Linked DNA regions of Homo sapiens. The protein of the gene in region 4 purifies or fractionates together with the protein of the main gene of each other region. This does not show direct contact. Each region holds a gene or a part of one and is shown on either strand. Other genes may lie near its edges.

Region 1 (3,500 bases), on a different chromosome or scaffold from region 4:
AGTGCCAACACCATTTGATGGGGGAAAAATCATGTCTTCAACAAATGGTATTGGTACAACTGGATATCCACAGCAGAAGAATCACACTGGACCCCTACCTCACACAATACACAAAAATTCCTCAAAATGGATCAACAACCTAAATAAATAACTAAAACTATAAAATTCTTAGAACACAGAGATAAGTCTTCATGACCTTGGATTTGTCAATGGATTCTCAGCTATGACACCAAAAGCACAAGCAACAAAAGAAAAAAATAATAACACTTTTGAGCCAGGCATGGTGGTGTGTACCTGTAGTCCCAGCTACTTGGGACACTGAAGTGGGCTGATGTACTTTTCTGCATCAAAGGGCATTATCAAGAAAGTGAAAAGACAACCGGTATACAAATTCAAGAAATAAACACATACATCAAGAAATCCAACAAGAAATATACAGTGCTGGCCGGGCACGGTGGCTCATGCCTGTAATCCGAGCACTCCGGGAGGCCAATGTGGATCACCTAAGGTCAGGAGTTCAAGACCAGCCTGGCCAACATGGTGAAACCATCTCCACTAAAAATACAAATATTAGCCAGGTGTGTTGGCACGCGCCTGTAATCCCAGCTTCCTGGGAGGCTGAAGCAAGAGAATCACTTGAACCCAGGAGGCAGAGGTTGCAGTGAGCCGAGATCAGACCACTGCACTCCAGCCTAGGTGACAGAGCCAGACTCTGTCTTGGGGAAAAAAAAAGAAAAAAGAAATACACAGTGTACAAATTATCAAGAAAGTGAAAAGACAATGGGAGAAAATACTTTTAAATCATTTATCTGGTAAGAGTCTAGCATCTGGATGATATAAAAAACTCTCTTTGAACTCCCTTTAAGTCAACAACCAAAAAACGAGACAACCCAATTCAAAAATGGACAAAGAACTTAAAAAGATATTTCTCCAAAGAAGATATATAAATAGTCAATAAGTTTATGAAGACACTTAACATTAGCCATAACATTAACATGGCCAAATCAAAATCATGATGAGATGCCACTTCACACCCATTAGGATGACTGTTATCTAACAAAAACAAAAAATAACAAGTGTTTGATGAGAAAAGAGAAAAACTAGAACCCTTGTGTATTGCTGGTGGGAATATAAAACTTCCCCAGCAACCTTGGAAAACAGTCTGGCAGTTCCTCAAGAAGTTAAACATAGAATTACCATATGAGTCAACAATTCCTTCTAGGTATATACCCAAAAGAAGGGAAAACAGGTACTCAAATACAAGTATATGAAAATTCATAACAGAACTATTCATAATAACCAAAAGGTGTAAATAACTCAAATGTCCGTCAATGGAAGAATGGACAGGCAAAACATATCTATACATACAGTGGAATATTACTCAGTGATTAAAATGAAAAACTCATACATGCTACAACTTGAACAAATCTCAAAAACATTACAATAAACGACAGATGCCACACATAATAGGTCACATATTGCATGATCCATTTACATGAAATCTCTCTAATACGTAAATCTAGAGACAGAAAGTAGATTGGTATTGCCAGGGGTGGAGGGCATGGGGGAATAGGGAGTGACTGCTTAATGGTTACAAAGTTTTCTTTCAGGGTAATGAAAATGTTTTAGAACTAGACGGAATTGGTGATTGCACAATATTGTGAATATATTAAATGTCACTGAACTTGTACACTTGAACTTTTTTTTTTTGGAGACAGAGTTTTACTCTTGTCACTCAGGCTAGAGTGCAGTGGCATGATCTCCGCTCACTGCAACCGCTGCCTCCCGGGTTCAAGTGATTCTCCTGCCTCAGCCTCCCAAGTAGCTGGAATTACAGGTGCTCACCACCACATCTGGCTAATTTTTATATTTTTTAGTAGAGACGGGGCTTCACCATGTTGGCCAGGCTGGTCTTGAATTCCTGACCTCAGTGAGCCACCTCACCCAGCCCCACTTTAAAATAATTTTATGTTATATAAATTTTGCCTCAATTGAAAAAAAAAAAATCACCTGGGTGCAGTGGCACACACCTGTAGTTCCAGCTCTGCAGCAGGCTGAGGCAGAATGATCACTTGTGCCCAGGATTTTCAAACAGTAGTACACCACGATCATGCCTGTGAATAGCCACTGCACTCCAGCCTGAGCAACATAGCTAGACCCCAACTCTATGAAAAAACAAATGAATAAGGAAACCTGTATACACATCCCCACACAAAAGGAAAGAAGGAAGGGGGGAGGGAGGGAGGGAGGAAGGGAGGGAGGAAGAAAGGGAGGAAGGGAGGGAGGGAGGGGACACAAGAAAGTACTAACTTGGGCAAGAAGATTGAAAAAGAAAATGTTGTTTAGAAAATCTTCTTAGGGTTAAAGTGCCTACCAGCCATCATGTAGCATGCAGCTGGTACTTACTGAGGCAGATCTTTAGTTTGGTTTTGTGTGTCTGATATTTTGACCCCTGTTTTACGTAGAAAGCCTAGACGCTGGAAATAGTGCCATGCAGCCCAGACTCCAGCACACATCAGCCTCCTGGCAAATCTCAATCTTCCTCAGCATCAGTTTCCAGAATGGAAAATGAAGTACACCAAAAGCTTTGACAGCCCTGTATGACTATCAAAGGAAGTACTGCAAATAAATTGTTAGCAAAATGAAGAAATGCAATAGAAATGAAAAATACTGGGACTTGCCTGTTCAACTAAACTCCTCTAGAGTTTACAGTAAAAATACTGATATCCTGTGTTATAGTTTTGGTTTTATCACTTACTTGCTGTGTCACTTTGCAAATTCTACTTCCTGCTCATACTAAATTTTATTTCATAGAGTGCCTATGAGGGTTCAATGAAAAGTTATTAAAATTATTAAAGTGCTACATAGTCAAGTGGTAAGTCAGAAACTTTGGTTTTAGAAAGGCTTGTACTAAAGTCGGAGAAATGTTATGCTTCAAGTCAGAATGGCTTGAAGTCACAGCTCTGCTACTTATAATTCAATCATGGTCATAAGCTGCATTTCTCATCTGTAAGATAGAAGCAAACAGACTTCAGTTTAAAATCTCATACGAATAAAGAAAAAAAGAGATAGGTACCATGGTTCACGCCTGTAATCCCAAAACTTTGGGAGGCTCAGGCGGGAGGATCACTGGAGCGCGGGAGTTCAAAACCAGCCTGGGCAACATAAAGAGACCCCCCATCTCTACAAAAACTAAAAATATTAGCTAGGCATGGTGGCACATGTCTGTAGTTCCAGCTACTCTGTAGGCTGAGGTAGGAGAATTGCTTGGGCCCAGGAGGTTGAGGCTGCAGTGAGCCATGATAGAGCCACTGCACTACTCCAGCCTAGGTGACAGAGTAAGACCATGTCTCAAAAAAAAAAAAAAAAGACAAAAGAAAGAAAAGGAATAAATAAAATAAATCTCATATGAGGCCCTTATAAGGCATACTAACATCTGAGGTCAGGCACGGTGGCTCATGCCTGTAATCCCAGCACTTTTGGAGGCTGAGGCAGGATGA
Region 2 (2,482 bases), about 130 Mb from region 4:
TAAGGTGCGGTGGGAGCACAGTTGCCATGCAGCTGGGCCCAGAGGACATATCCAGTAACCAAGGGAAATGGAGGGCTGGGTGGGCCATGGAGTCTGACATGTCTGCACAGGCCACATGGGTGTCACCCACAGACATGGCTCAGGGACGAGGGCCCTGCAGACTCAGCAGAGTCCTGGGCCCAGGCCACACCTCCCCCTGCATCTTGCCCAGGCCCTGGCAGGTTACCCGTCCTGCCGCAGCACAGCTTGGTCCCTCCAGGAAAACACAGGCCCACCAAAGCCGGGGTTCAGCGTAATGTTCTGAGGAGTCACTTCCAACTGAAAGTCCGTGGCAGGGTTTGCGATTCCCAGCCGCCCGAAGTACGTGCCGTCATGCTGCCCAGGGCTCCTGGCCTTGTTGCCAATGAGCTGTCCATTCACTGAGAAGCCTGCAATGGAGCAAGAGGGCATCCGGGTTGGGAAGGGGCCTGCCTGCCTTTGCTTAGCAGGATCATGCCTCCTTCCTAAGAGGCCTCTACGCCCTGCCTGTGCCACTCTGTCTTTGAGAGTCTCCTGCCTCAGGGTCTCCAGGTCTGGTCCCGCACACAGCACCACCTCTCCTTCCTCTCCACCCCTCCTGCCATGCCAAATATCCCATACTCAGCTCTCAGTTCTGGGTCCTAACGGAGGTCGTGCCTCCCCGAGAACAGGACCTAGCCTGCTCCTTCTCTGTGGCCCCAGCCCCTCACACAGGGACAGGCTCCCATTGTGCTGGAAATGCATTGTGGGACCTCTTCACAGAGGTCTCCGCTGACCTGGGCAGCCACAAAGCCCCCTTCCCACCCTCACGCTGCCAACCCAGCACGTCTCATGCTCTGAAATGATCATCTCAGAATGTTCACCTGTTTGTCTTCCCCTTCCCTAAACTCTATGAAAGCGGGACTATCTTGGCTCCCACTGCATTCCCAGCCCCTCGTTGGTGCACAACAAACACTTGCAGATGGACTAACTGGACAGGGAGGGAAGGAGACAGGAGGGAGCAGGGGTGAGAGAAGGAGAGGGAGCTGTTCCCCATAACCAAGGCACTGCTGGGAGAGAGGTGCTCTGCTCAGCCATGCTTCATGGGGAAGGTGGGGCAGGACTGTGACATATTTGCAGGACCTAGTATGAAATAAAAAGGAAGGGCCCCTTGTTTAGAAAGTGTTAAGGGTTTCAAGGCGGCAACGGAAGAGCATTAAACTGGCTGGGCACGGTGGCTCACACCTGTAATCCCAGCACTTTGGGAGGCCGAGGTGGACGGATCACCTGAGGTCAGGAGTTTGAGACCAACCAGGCCAACATGGTGAAACCCCATCTCTACTAAAAATACAAAAATAAACCAGTCATGGTGGCATGCGCCTGTAGTCCCAGCTACTTGGGAGGCTGAGGCAGGAGAATCACTTGAACCCAGGAGGCAGAGGTTGCAGTGAGCTGAGATAACGCCACTGTACTCCAGCCTGGGCAACAGAGCAAGACTCTGTCTCAGAAAAAAAAAAAAAAGCCCCTGTGTGCCTACCCCAGTCACATGCTGATAAAGCTGGCCCTGTGTAGGTGCAGCCAGGAGGATGGCGTGGGAAGGCAGCGGGCAGAGCCCAGCCAGGTGGATGGTGCCCAGGCAGAGGGCAGTGAGGGCCTTGGCCATAGTCCTGTTCCTGGCTGAATGTTGAGGGCAGAGGAGCCCTGGCCCTGTCTGGCAGAGGTGTGATGCCCGCCATACCTGTGTTGGGGTCCTGTACCAGGCTCAGGATAACACCAGGCTCCTCATTGATGTTGAAGCACAGGGTGTCCTCTTTCTGGGGCACGTGGATGATGAAGTGAGGGTCTGTGTCCACTGGGGGCACAGCATGGAATTCGTTAGATTGGACATCGGGCAGATGGGGCTGGCCAGGGGTTGGGGTTCAGCTAGGCAGGTCCCAGAGAGAGACAGAGAGAGAGAGACAGCCAGATAGGGTGGGTCCCAAACAGGGGTGTCCCTCAGACCCTTCCAAGGACTCACCGCCGGTCACTCGGTCTGGCAGCCGCTGGGTATTGGAGCTGGAATGAGTAGGAGAAGGCTGCAAGGCTGACAGCACGAACGCTGATGGGAGGGGGAGTGGCATTTAGAAGCGGGGCAGCCAGGCCTTCCCTGGAGCTGCTGATCCCTCTGATGACTCTTTCCTCACTGGTGGGGCTGGCCTGAGGCCACCAAGCAGGGATGTCCACTCAACATCACATGCCCTTGATTGGCTCCCGGGACACGGGGACAGAAGCTTGGCCTGGCATGTTTAGCTGGCCCCCTCTCTGTCTCCTCCCCCAGGGACCTCAGGCTGGGGAGGCCAGGCTGTTCAGAGGTCTGTTCTAAAGATTCCCAGTGACAAGCAGTGAAGACAGCTAGAACGGAGGAAGAAAGCCAACGGGGTGATCATCAAGGAGGGGTAGAGATGTGAATGGCCAGGATGGCTGCCACTTACTCCTTCTGGGTCCC
Region 3 (3,500 bases), about 25 Mb from region 4:
TTCTTTCTGTATTTAGCTAAGTGTTCCTTCTTTAAAGTGCTTTAATTTTAAGGTACAGGGTCTCTAATCTGACTATGTATCAGTATCACCTGAAGAGCATTTTAAAGCTCAAGTTTCTAAGAAATATTTTCTGAAACAGAAATCTCCAGGGGTTGAGCAGGAGAAATTAAAAACAGCTCCACACAGTTTATTTTGATGTTCAGGCATAATGACTTAGGCTACAGACTAACGGTTTCTCTTATGCGATTATTGTACTTTACAGATTCTAAGCCATTAGCAGATTAAAATATACTATTTACCTCAGAAAGGTAGAGGGAGCTTGCTGCGTCTCCCCCATTACAACTGTAGCTTAACAGCTACTGCTTATATCTCTGAGAACTTCTCACACTCTGTTTTTGGCTCTTTCTAAATGCAAATTCTTTGGGATAAATATTATGTGAAAGAATTTAAACAATAAAAAATAAATTTAAATAAGTGAAAAGCAACAATTTAGAAAGTCCCTAAACAGCACATTTCAGTAGAGTACCCTTATTTCAGCACCAATGAAGATAAGAGTTAACTAAACTTGCCAGGTGAGTAAATAAGGATGGTTGGCAAGGAAGAAAAAAAAAGAAGTAGGGAAGTGAAAGAGGAAGAACAAAAAGAAGAGGAGTAGGAAAAAATAAGTGTCTGTCAATACTTGTTTCAGATGCCATGCATGTTGCTATAATGAACTTCCCTGGTCTACATTAAAAATCAGTAATCCGGCCAGGCATGGTGGTTCACACCTGTAATCTCAGCACTTTGGGAGGCTGGGGTGGAAGGATCATTTGAGGCCAGGAGTTCAAGAGCAGCCTGGCCAACATGGCAAAACCCTGACTGTATCAAAAATAGAAAAAAATTAGCTACACATGATGGTGTGTGCCTGTGATCCCAACCACTCAAGAGGCTGAGGTGGGAGAATGTTCCTTGAACCTAGGAAGTGGAGGTTGTAGTGAGCTGAGATCACGCCACCTCACTCCAGCCTGGGTGACAGTGAGACCCCATCTTAAAAAAAGAAATTAGTAATCTACAATGGCATCTTATTATTTATTTTCCCCTTTCCATCACAGATTTGTTGTTATGCTAAGAATATACTTTAAACTACTGAAATTGTCCATCTTTGAATGCCATGCTTAAAGCAATTAGTGGTAAGAAATACTTATAATTTAACTAAGAACAAACTTACCTGAACTTTAACTTCCTGGTGGCTGAGCAGAGGAACCAAATGAGGAACTATTCCAGAGTCTATTACCATCTGTATTTGTTCATTGCCAGCATCAGTAAGGTAAGAGAGGGCCCAGACTGTGTCTACCAGTATCTAATGAATAAAATAAAAATTCAAACAACTTTTAAATATTTTCTCATTTTAGTAATTCTTGACCAAACAACCATTCTAAAATTGTTCAACTACCTTCTTCCTTCTTTTCTTCTCTCAGTTTAATTCATTGGAATCTGATCGCTACGGTATTAAACATCATCATCTATAAATGTCTGTACTAAGACGTACATCTTTTAGCCATATTCAGGATTCTGATCCCAGATTAGTATCCAATCTTAGTTCACTAAGATACACACGCACACTACACAGCTCATAAAACAGGAGAAAAAGACATTCTCTTTCCCAAAGGCTGAGGGATAACAGGTCCAAAAACATTGTGGCTCATGTATAAAGCTGGAAAGACTACATGTATCCAACATGCACAGTTGTTCAAAACATCTGGGCTAGATGAATATATTCAAGGAGTTCTCTAGTATTGTAAGTACCATGTAGATATGCCTAAAGCCAATAACCCAAGTATTCATATTGTAGTATAAAATACTTTAATCTTTTCCAACCAGTTTGTTTTGCCTTACAGAACTGGAGACAACTTTTTTTTTTTTTTGAGACGGAGTCTCGCTCTGTCGCCCAGGCTGGAGTGCAGCAGCGCGATCTCGGTTCACTGCAAGCTCCGCCTCCCGGGTTCATGCCATTCTCCTGCCTCAGCCTCCCGAGTAGCTGGGACTACAGGCGCATGCCGCAACGCCTGGCTAAGTTTTGGCATTTTTCAGTAGAGACGGGGTTTCACCGTGTTAGCCAAGATGGTCTCGATCTCCTGACCTCATGATCCGCCCGCCTCGGCCTCCCAAAGTGCTGGGATTACAGGCGTAAGCCACTGCGCCCGGCCAGCAACTTCTTAAATAGTGGAAGTCCCCTACAGCTGCAGATCAAGACATTAAAATAATCATAGGTCAATCTGTGAGACCTGTAATTAAAACAAAAAATACGTACTTCACTACAGCTGCTACTTATGAAAAAAAAAAAAAAGCCTGTGTAATCAACTTCTACTAAGTAGCCTACCATTTTTTTTAACGATTACATCTTTAAGTACAACAGGCCATGTGTTTGATCTTTCCTAGTACGTTAGGTCCTAATTAGAAGTTATGACCAAAGGGCAGTATGACAAACAACTGTAACTGCTGCAAATAAATACACAAATTATTGACAAAGACATGGGAATAATAATTGTGCCTAAAACTACTTCCAAAGCCTTTCCAGAATATGAACTCTGTGTCAAGACAAGCTGGAGAAGTGTAAAACCTTTAAAACAATAAACTAGGCAGGGAGTAGTGGCTCACGCCTGTAACCCCAGCACTTTGGGAGACCAAGGCAGGTGGACTGCTTGAGCCCAGGAGTTACAGACCAGCCTGGGCAACACGGTGAAACCCCGTCTCTATGAAAAACAGAAACAATTCGGCATTGTTTATTTTTTCTTGTTTTTATGACCCTGACTTTAAAAAAATCGTAAAACTGTAAACTAATGTTATGCTTAGGACACCCAAGAGAAAATAAAAAAATAAGATAAAAAAAACCAAAAAGACACCCCGAAACTCCTAAAAGGTGAAAATAATGCTTTGCCATTGTTTCTTAGGAAATTCAAGAAAGCTCTAAGGATATTTCTAATGTAAAAAGAAGACATCAAATGAGAGTTCGCACAGGCTGGGTGTGGTGGCTCACGCCTGCAATCCCAGCACTTTGGGGGGCCAAGGTGGGTGGATCACGAGGTCAAGAGTTCAAGACCAGCCTGGCCAACATAGTGAAACCCTGTCTCCACTAAAAAATGCAAAAAAATTAGCCAGGCGTGGTGGCGGGCATCTGTAAACCCAGCTACTCGGGAGGCTGAGGCAGGAGAATCGCTGGAACCCAGGAGGCAGAGGTTGCAGTGAGTGGAGATCATGCCACTGCACTCCAGCCTGGGAAACAGTGCGAGACTCTGTCTCAAAAAGAAAAAAAAAAGAATTCACATAAAAAAATGGTATCAATATATGTGAAAAAACCTAAATTTCAATTTGCAAATGTAACTGAGTTTCTTTTCTGGAATATTAACATATGCTAAAATTTGTTGACATAGGCCAAAAATTTCAAGTTACTTGCTCATAACTGTATATAAAAGCTAGATACATGTTTTTAAAGGACATGTCACTAATATGCTCAGATCAAA
Region 4 (5,571 bases):
TCTGTCCCTCTCTTTGCCTGAGCAATTCTTTTCCTTTGTCTCAATTATTGACACTTTCCTCCTGAGTAAGCCATTGCTTCCACTGCCCAGGCGGAGTCGGGCCGACACTTCTTCTGATAGGTCAGGCTCCAGTTGGTATCCCCTCCTCTGATCAAAAAATTATCTAAATTCTACTGACATGTTTGATACTTGCAAATATAAACACAGATTACACATGAAATATAAAACTGCCACTAATGTGAAAGAAAAGAGAATTAGCAAATCCCCCAAGTGAGTAGATTTACCCTATCTGTCTGTCCCTGCAAGGGGGAGCAAAAAAAGCTCCAGACCTAGGCCTCACAGGACCCTCAGTTATGAACCATCAAACAGAACACTCACCACCTTCCCTGGAAGTAGCAAGAAAAGTATTTTCAGTTCTCCTATCACAATTAAAATTAGTATGTTTAAAAGATATTATGAAAGTTTTAAACAGCAAAAAATATGACCCACAATCCCATCACTCAGAATAAATCCCTACTATCTTTATAGTAACTCAACTTGGTTCTAGTTTATCCTTGAAAAAAGTCATTTGATATTACAGAAAATGCACAAAACATTAATGTACCACTTAATTTGAATGAACACCTATATAACCACAATTGTAGTAAACAAATAGAATTCTGCCAGCAACCCAGAACATATCATCTCTTTCCAGAGATGTATGATTTTTAAGAAATTCTCCCTAAGAAGCCATAAAATGTAGGTAACATGTTGGTATGGAGGCAGATTGGTCTCTCATAAACAAAGGTGGCTACTGTACAGAGGCAAAACTCCAACAACTCAGAAGGAAGAAAAAAGTTGTGTATTTTCAATGCTTCCTGCCTTTTTTTTTTTTTTTTTTTTTGAGACAGAGTCTCATTCTGTCACCTAGGCTGGAGTGCTATGGTGTGATCACAGCTCACTGCAGCCTTGACCTCCTGGGCTCAAGCAATCCTCCCACCTTAGCTTCCCAAGTAGCTGGGACTACAGACATGCCACCATGCCTGGCTAACTTTTAAATTTTTTTGTGGAGACAGTCTCACTATGTTGCCCAGGCTGGTCTCAAACTCCTGGGCTCAAGTGATCCTTCTGCCTTGGCCTCCTAAAGTTCTGGGATTACAGGCATGAGCCACTGTGACTGGCTGGCTTGCTGCTTTTTTAAAGAAAAACAACAGAATTAACAATCAAAGTTATATATATATACTTTTTCTTGCTTTTCATGGGCACCAAAACATAAGTTACATAAGTAAACAGGTATCAAATGTAACTAGGATTTTTACTTACACTTTCATTTTCAAATCTGATTCCGACCATCGTCTCTGTATCAGTAATTTTCCCCTTTGAACACCTAAGGAAAAAAATTGAGAGATGATAGACTTCTGCTAGATGATTCAAACCTAGTACATCCTAGTTTTAGAAATAAGATTTCGTAATTTGTACATAAAAATTGTGTTGAGTTTACATAATACTCTAAACCAGGAGTCAACGAACTTTTCTGAAAAGGAACAGACAGTATTTTAGGCTTTGCAGGTTTTATGGTCTTGGGCACATCGTGGCAACTCTGCCACTGTAATTTAAAAGCAGCCAGACAGTATGTAAATGAATTCGCATGTTCCAATAGAAATTTACTATACAAAAATAGGCAAGTAGACCAGATTTGGCCCATGGGCCATAGTTTACAAACTCTGCTATAAACCATCATCCCAAAATCCTAAAGCATGCAGAGCTGCCTTTACTGTTCCTATCCTAAAGACACTGACACTAGACATCCCCACTCCAACCAAACTCCCATCTAAGAAGCATGTGTTTCTCCCAACCCCTGACGCCTGGGAGATAAGGGGCACCCCCCTCAACCCACCAGGCTAGGGTGGGCATCTGACACAACAGCTAGCTACCTATCTACCCTATATGCTGACCAACTACCAGAACTCAAGAGAGTTCACAATTCCTCAGAACTGCTTACTCATAAATACAGCTTATAAAGTAAGAAAATATATATTAAAAGAAAGTGTAGAATGAACTGAATGTACGTACCTCTTTTCACTTCTCAATGAACATAGAGGTCCCCTTGTTTCAACAAGTCTATCTGTGAGGATGGTAAAGAAAAGATTAAATGTTTCCTTCATCGATGAATAATATAGTTAGAATTTCAGCTTACAGAGTTTCCACAACATCAAGACATTCCTCTACATTGAAATGCTACAGTGAATTCCAAAGACACTAGCCTCCCTATATACTAAGTTGCCTAAAAAAATGCATACATATCTTTGCTGTTTAAATATAATCTTTACTATAAACTGAGTGATATCTGCTTATCTGGTAAGCTGTCATTTAGTGGACAGTAAGTGGAGAAGTATAAGGAAATTGTTATATAAGGAATATAATAAAATTTCAGCTCACAAAATAGTTGCTACTATCTAGCAGCTTAGGAATAATAATCCAGAGCCATGTTATGAATCTACTTCACCCTGAAACAGCTTTTCTACTAAATTCCTAGATAAGCCCCAGTCAATGCTGTGAGGTTTTTTTTTTTTTTTTGAGACAGAGTCTCACTGTCACCCAGGCTGGAGTGCAGTGGCGTGATCTTGGCTCACTGCAACCTCCACCTCCCAGGTTCAGGCAATTCTACTTCCTCAGCCTCCTGAGTAGCTGGGATTACAGGCAAGTGCCACCATGCCTGGCTAATTTTTGTATTTTTAGTAGAGATGGGGTTTTACCATGTTCGCCAGGCTGGTCTTGAACTCCTGACCTCAGGTGATCCATCTGCCTTGGCCTCCCAAAGTGCTGGGATTGCAGGCGTAAGCCACCGCGCCCGGCCCAATGCTGTGAGATTTGACAGTATTTTGGTACACCATCTACACTTGAATGTCAATTTTCTACCTCATATGAACACTGTAGCATGAACTAAGGTCAATATATTAAGACAAGGCTAAATCTGGGAACTCACATTGTTTTGGAACAAACTGAGTTGTTTTGACTCCGTGATTTTGCTCTTCCCCCCAGCCTTTGGTCTTTAATGTGTCCATCTGACTTCTTTGAGAACTTAGAAACACAAAAAGTGAGGGAGATCAGATACAAAAGCAAAGTCTACCATTAATATGCATTATCTCTGTCCAGCAAGCTTCTCCAAATAGGGGTGATTGATTACACTATTATATCAAATTACAACAGAAAGGAAGCAACTATGTGGGACTAGGATAAAAGGAGTCTAATCATGATTCTAATAATATTTCAGCCAGGTCACCTAACCTCCAGTTTCTCTGTTTGTAAAATCAGAGGTTCTGAATCCCCAGTGATGCACTAACTGAAAAATCTCAGTGTGATAAAACTCAGATTAAAAGATAAAAAACTTTTTAAGCTATGTATTTAAATGGATCCTGAAACAATACATTAAAAGCAAGAACTTTTTGTTTTTTGAGACGGAGTCTCGCACTGTCGCCCAGGCTGGAGTGCAGTGGTGTGATCATGGCCTCACTGAAATCTCTACCTCTCAGGTTCAAGTGGTTCTCCTGCCTCAGCCTCCCAAGTAGCTGGGATTACTGGCACACGCCACTACACCTGGTTAATTTTTGTATTTTTAGTAGACATGGGGTTTCGCCATGTTGGTCAGGCTGGTCTCGAAGTCCTGACCTCCAGTGACCCACCTGCCTCGGCCTCCCAAAGCGCTGGGATTACAGGTGTGAGCCACCACACCCAGCCAGAAGCAGGAACTTTAATTATTTATTTATTTATTTTGAGACGGAGTCTCGATCTGTAGCTCAGGCTGGAGTGCAGTGGCACAATCTCTGCTCACTGCAAGCTCCGCCTCCCGGGTTCACGCCATTCTCCTGCCTCAGCCTCCCGAGTAGGTGGGACTACAGGTGCCAGCCACCATGCCCAGCTAATTTTTTGTATTTTTTAGTAGAGATGGGGTTTCACCGTGTTAGCCAGGATGATCTTGATCTCCTGACCTCGTGATCCGTCCACCTCGGCCTCCCAAAGTGCTGGGATTACAGGTGTGAGCCACTGTGCCCAGCCAAAGCAGCAACTTTAAAAAGCAAAAATAGTTTGAGGGTTTCGCCAACATGACAAAGTTAAGAGTTCGTTAAACATACTGCTGTTTCCAACATATGGCTGGTCAAAATGGAGAAAATACTGACATTCTGACTAAACCAAAAGAATTTTTTTTTAAAGTTCACAACTGATTATTCGCAAACAATCTGTTATTTCTGCATTCAAAAGCTAGATAGTAGGCCGGGTGCGGTGGCTCACGCCTGTAATCCCAGCACTCTGGGAGGCTGAGGCTGGTGGACTACCTGAGATCAGGTGTTCGAGACCGGCCTGGCCAACATGGTGAAGCCCCATCTCTACCAAAAATACAAAAAATTAGCTGGGCGTGGCGGTGGACGCCTGTAATCCCAGCTACTCAGGAGGCTGAGGCAGGATAATCGCTTGAACCCAGGAAGCGGAGATTGCAGTGAGCTGAGATTGCATCACTGCACTCCAGCCTGGGCAACAATAGTGAAACTCCATCTCAAAAAAAAAAAAAAAAAAAAAAAGCTAGATAATATTCTGTGACTTTTTAATCTTCGATTTGCTATTATATAATTTCTGGGATCCCTGTGTTTTCTCACACCACTTGTTAGAATTACCTAGTGTACCTCAATCCTGAGCTCACACATTTTTTGTCCTCCTTTCACAGGCAAATACAAGGCCAAATATCACTTCCTTCTGCCACTCTCATCTATTAATATTTGCTTAAATCATTATTTAATTAACAAGCTGTCCTATAAGGAAAATTGTTATGACCTGGGAGACTTTAATCTTGTCTCTAGTGGGTTTCCAAATGTGCTAAGATTCAATCTCTATGATGCCGCAGGGACTAGGTATGTCTCATGGGGTAGGGGTGAGGCAGGGGGAAGGAAAAAAGACAAAAAGAAAGACCAGGAGGAGGTGAAGGAGAAAGGAAGGAAGGAAGGGAGATGGGAGAAATGGAGAGAGGGGCAGGAGTGGGGTGGGGAAGGGAGGTAGAGAGAGAGATTGTGGGAAATGTATGCTGGGGAGGTTGAAGAAACTCTCTGCCTCTTGGGAGCCCTACTTCAACCAGTGATCCACTTTTTTAATATAAGAGTTTCAAGTAAAAGTTTACTTGAACAAAAGGTCCTAAAGGTAACATAAAATTTTACTTTGCAAAACCACTGTTACATATTATCCATTACTAGATAAATATCCAGGCAAATGACAGAGCTAGTTCTCTCAGGGTTAACCTCTTCTTTCAGTAAAGCCCTTCCCACCAATACTTTCTCCAAAAACAAACAAACAAAAGATGCCTAGCAAAGCATTATCTGTTAGCTCACTGTCACCTGTGATAATTTGAAGTTACAGGACAGACAGAGTTTCCATGACCACTTTCTTTAAGTCGTTCCAATAACTTTCGGTACTTCTCTCTTTCCTCTTTTTGAACACCCTAAATAAAAGAAAGCATGTTAGATAAGTACCAGCACATTAAATTTATAATTAAAAGGCCAAATGTAAACCATAGGTGTGTTTTATTTGCCAGCACTATGTTTTTAA

What was found.
Region 1: the proteins of SENP2 (region 4) and USP28 purify together in Homo sapiens (affinity purification with mass spectrometry; 2 studies listed by BioGRID and IntAct, with this or other methods). This does not show direct contact.
Region 2: the proteins of SENP2 (region 4) and ITIH1 purify together in Homo sapiens (affinity purification with mass spectrometry, with the first as the bait; one large-scale study listed by BioGRID). This does not show direct contact.
Region 3: the proteins of SENP2 (region 4) and KPNA4 purify together in Homo sapiens (affinity purification with mass spectrometry, with the first as the bait; one large-scale study listed by BioGRID). This does not show direct contact.

The regions. Positions count from the first base shown.
Region 1 is NC_000011.10:113,865,573-113,869,072, forward strand, and holds part of USP28 (ubiquitin carboxyl-terminal hydrolase 28), read right to left. Parts: intron 1-3,500. UniProt on the Homo sapiens protein: Deubiquitinase involved in DNA damage response checkpoint and MYC proto-oncogene stability. Involved in DNA damage induced apoptosis by specifically deubiquitinating proteins of the DNA damage pathway such as CLSPN.
Region 2 is NC_000003.12:52,787,599-52,790,080, reverse strand, and holds part of ITIH1 (inter-alpha-trypsin inhibitor heavy chain H1 isoform a preproprotein), read right to left. Parts: coding exon 2,469-2,482; intron 2,096-2,468; coding exon 2,015-2,095; intron 1,850-2,014; coding exon 1,736-1,849; intron 429-1,735; coding exon 227-428; intron 1-226. UniProt on the Homo sapiens protein: May act as a carrier of hyaluronan in serum or as a binding protein between hyaluronan and other matrix protein, including those on cell surfaces in tissues to regulate the localization, synthesis and degradation of hyaluronan which are essential to cells undergoing biological processes.
Region 3 is NC_000003.12:160,520,572-160,524,071, forward strand, and holds part of KPNA4 (importin subunit alpha-3), read right to left. Parts: intron 1,340-3,500; coding exon 1,208-1,339; intron 1-1,207. UniProt on the Homo sapiens protein: Functions in nuclear protein import as an adapter protein for nuclear receptor KPNB1. Binds specifically and directly to substrates containing either a simple or bipartite NLS motif.
Region 4 is NC_000003.12:185,609,140-185,614,710, reverse strand, and holds part of SENP2 (sentrin-specific protease 2), read right to left. Parts: intron 5,465-5,571; coding exon 5,361-5,464; intron 3,061-5,360; coding exon 2,966-3,060; intron 2,105-2,965; coding exon 2,053-2,104; intron 1,367-2,052; coding exon 1,303-1,366; intron 148-1,302; coding exon 1-147. UniProt on the Homo sapiens protein: Protease that catalyzes two essential functions in the SUMO pathway.